Regions from separate parts of the Homo sapiens genome. Here region 1 is linked to region 2. The links come from fine-mapping of genetic effects on gene expression. A gene starts in region 2. The other region holds a variant in brackets. All regions are shown on one strand. Distances are between the middles of the regions.

Evidence for each region. PIP is the estimated chance that this variant, and not a neighbour inherited with it, causes the effect.
Region 1: its variant is fine-mapped to the expression of DIP2B in testis (GTEx, PIP above 0.99).

The regions. Positions count from the first base shown.
Region 1 is chr12:50,733,164-50,736,075 of GRCh38, reverse strand. It overlaps DIP2B (disco interacting protein 2 homolog B), which reads right to left. Exons shown (of 38, transcript NM_173602.3): 33 at 1,880-1,941; 34 at 946-1,003. Among named protein-coding and RNA genes, the nearest start is that of ATF1, 29 kb to the left of the region's middle. The variant C/T (reference allele first, on the strand shown) is at 1,445.
Region 2 is chr12:50,503,366-50,506,277 of GRCh38, reverse strand. It overlaps DIP2B (disco interacting protein 2 homolog B), which reads right to left and starts at 1,293. Exons shown (of 38, transcript NM_173602.3): 1 at 1,038-1,293. The coding sequence starts at 1,137. RefSeq lists a silencer at 881-990.

The DNA.
Region 1 (2,912 bases), 230 kb before region 2:
AGGATTCTGAGGTATCATCATTATCTCATCAAAGGGCAGAGAAATTCCCACTTGTCTTGACAATGCATGTGGGTTTCCTATCATCCTTAGTAAATTGCTTCTCACTAAATCTCTCTTTTGACGTTTTATAGCCTCATTCTAATCTAAGAAATCTTACTCCCACAGATGTTAACTCTCAAATATCTTTAATCTCATCCCCATTTTTATTTTCCTTTCAACTTTAAATGCATGTGTGTCTTCCCTGACCTTAAACCACACTCCCATCTCGGCCTCTCCTAGCTTTCTCCTTGTGACGTTTGTAAGATAGAACCGGGCCGGGCATAGTGGCTCATGCCTGTAATCCCAGCACTTTGGGAGGCCGAGGCAGGTGATCACCTGATGTCAGGAGTTCAAGACCAGCCTGGCCAACATGGTGAAACCCCATCTTTACTAAAAACACAAAAATTAGCTGGGCGTGGGGGCAGGTGCCTGTAACCCCGGCTACTCGGAGGCTGAGGCAAGTTCTCCTTGAATCTGGGAGGCAGAGGTTGCAGTGAGCCGAGATCGCGCCACTGCACTCTAGCCTGGGTGGCAGAGTGAGACTCCATCTCAAAAAAAACAAAAAACAAAAAACAAAAAAACAAAAAAAACCATGAAAAAAAAACATAGAACCAGCTCTTCTATCCACCTTTCATACAATGAGCACTGCATTTTGCTGGTCTGTCAATAAGAATAACATGTCAGTTGGATTTTTAAAAATCGATGGAAATTAAGAGAGTTCAAATTTACTATTCTTCTTATCTATGTACCCATATGAATTTGAAAGTATTAGCCAAGCTGAAATTATCTCCAGATTTCAATTAAGGCTTGCCCTGGACACTAATATATTATATGGCTTCTGGTTTCTTTAAACTGAACCACTTCTCCACACAGCCCACCTTCCCCATGGTCAACAGAACAAATTACCTTTCCAGACTCTGAGAGAAGCAAACTCTGAGGGGCGCCACGTTCCACGAGACGAACCCTGCAGAAGAACGGTATTTACTATATATAGGGCTTTTAAGAGGAGAAGTCGCCATGTTCCTGCAGCTCGGTGCTGCCTTCCCACAACCTCTAACTTGTCTCTCTTCCTCATACTACAGAGGGGTTTCTCAAACTCAGCACTACTAACATTTTGGCCAGATAATTTTTTGTTGAAAGGGGCTATCCTGTGCATTGCGGTGTTTACCAACACCTCTGGCCTCTGCCCACTAGATGTCAGTAGCAAGCCCCCTTTTATGACAACCCAAAATGTTTCCAGACATTGTCAAATCTCCTCTAGGGTGGCAAAATCTTCCCAGGTTTCAAACTGCTGCATGAGAGAGATGTTCCACCTATGCAGGCTAGGTCAGTGCAGTGGGGCACTCCAGATAACACATCCAGGGTAGTGGGGCTTGGGAAGAGAAGTCTTAGAGCCCTGGGCCAG[C/T]GCTCACTGCCGGACACAGCTAAAATTCCCTTCTGGGCTAAGGAGGCAGGCTTTTACCCATGGGGCTCAGATAAAGTGTTGTTTCAAAAACCCTACTCTGACTCATTTATCTTATCTGTCCTATTATTTTTAAACTCTTAGAGGAAAGAGACTATCCATTTTAGTTTAATTTATATCAAATGTCACAAAATACTTTTATATGGGCAATAACTATTATACTTTAATATTAAAGAACAGTGTAGCAACTGAGAGAATTAAAGCTTTCTTATAAATGTAAATCTTATGTATTAATGATAAAAACAAATTCCTTCCCTCTTCCCATTCCCCTCCTGGAATATATGAACAAAAGGAATGAGGGAAAATGCTGGCTTTGAGGTTCCGAATTTGTTATGCTTAGGAACTAGTAGGAAAGGAGCATTAATAAATCTGTTGTACCTGTCATGTCTTAGTGATTTCAGATCCACATACACAGTAGTCGGATCAGGCCCTGAGGTTCCCTAAAGAAAGACAAATCAATGCGTTGTTTAGAATTTCGATAAACTGTATTTCACATTTTCAAACCAAGAAATAATTTAGCCATATACATGAAAAATCCACACTCTTTTCACCTCTCCTCCCCTTGAGAGTAGGCCCCCTGCTCTCACTCTTATCACGGGGACTGTGGCAGCACTGAAACATTTCCATGCTGAGGAGGGCTTTCATCCCTGGATTCAAAGCAGAGGTGACACAGGTCGGCAACCCAGGGACTTGCAAAACCAGTATTGGCCACAGTGACAGCAAGAGGGCTATGATGGGGCTCAAGTTTAAACCATCAAGACCCTTCTGAAAGAAGAAGGTCACAGAAGACCTGAAATAATCCACCCATGTGTGCTATCTTCTTTCACTCACTTTGTCCATGCCTATATTTGCCTTATTATTTTTTTAAGAGACAGGGTCTCAATCTGTTGCCCAGGTTGCTGGAGTGCAGCGGTACAATCACAGCTCACTGCAGCCTCAACCTCCTGGGCTCAAGCAATCCCCTTGCCTCAGACTTCCAGGTAGCTGGGACTAGAGGCATGTACCACTAAGCCCATCTATATTTTTTGCAGGTGAGTGGTGGGGGTAGGGGAGAGATGAGGTCTCAACTATGTTGCCCAGGCTGGTCTCAAACTTCAGGGCTCAAGCAATCCTCCTGCCTTGGCCTCACAAAGTGTTGGGATTATAGCCATGAACCACCACACCTGGCGCTATATTTGCCTTATTACACATTAATACATAAAATTAGTCTCAGTTCTAGTCCCTTTTCTGTTATTTACCCATCAAGAATAACATGACAAAGTTGCCATCTGGGTAGAGAAGAGAATACAAGGTTATTGTTTGGAAAAAAAAAAAAAAAAAGAAAGAAAAAAAATGGTATAGAATATAGAGACAGAAAAACAGAAGGTCAGACCGGGCGCGGTGGCTCATGTCTGTAATCCCAGCACTTTGG
Region 2 (2,912 bases):
CAAGGAACTCAGTAAGAATATGCAACTCTGGAGACACAATCAAAGTACTGGTATCAAGCTTGGAGAAAATGCTGCTTTTGTCTCAGGGGCAGCCAGTGATAAAAACAGGAACTTTACACAGAACTGATCACAACTGCCCCAGAAGCCTGATCACATGCCCACAACGGAGCACTGTGTTTCTCTCATTGTTGTACAAGGAGTTCTCTAATAACAGTGGCTTGATTTATCCCATTTTTTTTTTTTAATTCTGAAAATAAATCGAACCCTCCCTGTCCCAATCCATTGTCAAAAGAAAGAATGCCAGCCAGGATTTGCAAGTAAACGGTAGCCTCCTCTCCTTCCTTCATCAAAGACTCCAAAAGGTGACCAGATGCGGAAAATTCGGCCCGAATAACAGGCACCAGGAAAAAAAAAAACTTCTTATGACAAAGGTGGTCTAAAAGCAGCACCGTGTGTCTCTCTGGGTTAATGCCATTGCTTCTTATCTTCCTAGGACCCTAAATGGCTCACCCGCTTGTGTCTCACTCCTGTCACTGGGGAGGCATCGCGCATTGTTAAAGGAAAGAGAAGAAATGATGCTGCGGATTTCCCATGTGTCTCTTTTTGAAAGGGGGAAGGGGGGGCTGGAACAAGGCGTGGAGCCCTCCACGAAAAGGGGAGAGGAAAGGAGAAAGCTGTCAGCCACCCTCCTCGCAGCCCTACCCCTCACCCCACCTGGGCCAGACGCCTGGGCAGAAGCGGGAGGGCGCAGCTTTGTCTCGGGTTTTGGGGGGCAGGAAGCGCAGAAGCAGTGTGGGCCCGGGAGGACCTTTCCACAAGCCCTTACTTAGTCCCCTCCATGGGAAAACAATGAAAGCCACAGGAAACCACTTAATGGGGTGGGAGAGGAGGGAAAACGGTCGTGGAGCGCCAGGCCAGGTTCTCTACACCCTCGTCCCCCTCGCCGCACGGCCGCCAGAGCGCGCGGCGGGGACCTGTCTCCCAAGTCGCCGCGATCCGCAGGGCCCCGGGCGCCCTCTCCCCGGCCCGGCTCCTACCCTCCGAGAGCTCCAGCTCCAGCTCCGCCAGCTGCGCCCGCACTTCAGGCGGCAGCGCCGCCACCGCGGCCGGCGACGGCTCCAGGCCTCGTTCCGCCATCCCAGCTCCGCCAGCCACACTCCGGAAGACAAGAGAGGGGGCCGAAGGAGGGACGGACAGACACGGGCCCACACCCGGCTACAGGATCCGGCTCCGGCCGCCGAGCACCACCAGCACCGCCGCCGCCGCCGCCGCCGCCATGAGCAAAGGTCACGTGAGCGCGACGGCCCCCGCCCCCCGGCCAGGAGGACGCACCGCCTCTCCAGCCCAGTCAGGCTGAAGACGCATATGCTTACGGCGCCCTCTACTGGGAAGCTACCAGAACGACGGGCCCAAGCCCACCACTCGAATTTCCCTGCGCGAAATGGGCTCATGGTATGGACTGTCGGCTTTACCACAGTAGTGTGGACACATAGCATTTACCTTTCACTCTCGAGCAAGTTTTTAGGGGTCCCAGGCCTTACTTTTTCCAATACTAGACTTAGCAATGTATGTCTATCGTGTCCTTTACTCCATTTTCCCTGATTAATACCTGCCCATTTATAAAAACCTAATCACAGGCCACCTCCTTCGCTGTGGCTCCTGGTCCTATCTGCCAGGAGCTCTGTTTCCGTTTCAGTTTTAGCTTTTAAAAAGACAGGCGCGGTGGCTCTCGCCTGTAATCCTAGCACTTTGGGAGGCTGAGGCTGGTGGATCACCTGAGGTTAAGAGTACCAGGCTAGCCGACCGGGCGCGGTGGCTCACGCCTGTAATCCCAGCACTTTGGGAGGCCGAGACGGGTGGATCACGAAGTCAGGAGATCGAGACCATCCTGGCTGACACGGTGAAACCCCGTCTCTACTAAAAGTACAAAAAATTAGCCGGGCGTGGTGGCGGGCGCCTGTAGTCCCAGCTACTCGGGAGGCTGAGGCAGGAGAATGGCGTGAACCCGGGAGGCGGAGCTTGCAGTGAGCCAAGATCACGCCACTGCACTCCAGCCTGAGCGTGAGCGCGAGACTCCGACTCAAAAAAAAAAAAAAAAGAGTACTAGGCCAGCCTGGCCAACATGGTGAAACCCCGTCTCCAATAAAAATACAAAAATTAGCCGGGCGTGGTGGCGGATGCCTGTACTCCTAGCTACTCAAGAGGCTGAGGCAGGAGAATCACTTGAACCCAGGAGGCAGAGGTTACAGTAAGCTGAGATCGCGTCATTGCACTCCAGCCCGGGCAAGAGAGCAAACACTCCGTCTAAAGAAAAGAAAAAGACAATAGAGAGCAGGTCCACTTCTTTCTTTCTATACTTCTAACTACTTACAAGGAGGGAACTTACTTTAACTCATCCTCCTCACTCTGTGGCCTAATAGGTGTTCCAAAAACATTAATTTTAATTTAATATGAAGAGGGTCCAAGGCTAGGTGCAGTGGCTCACACCTATGATCCCAGCACTTTGGGAGGCCAAGGTGGGCGGATCACCTGAGGTCAAGAGTTCGAGACCAGCCTGGCCAACATGGCGAAACCCCGTCTCTACTAAAAACACAAAAATTAGCCGGGAGTAGTGGCACATGCCTGTAATCCCAGCTACCTGGGGGAGCTGAGGTAGGAACGTCGCTTGAACCCGGGAGGCCAAGGTTACAGTGAGCTGAGAACATGGCGGCTGCGCTCCAGCCTGGGCAACGCAGTGAAACTGTTTCAAAAAAAAAAAAAAAAGTCAAGGCCGGGCGTGGTCGCTCACATCTGTAATCCCAGCACTTTGGGAGGCCGAGGCAGGCAGATCACCTGAGGTCAGGAGTTGGAGATCAGCCTGACCAGTATGGTGAAACCCCGCGTCTACTAAAAATACAAAAATTAGCTGGGCA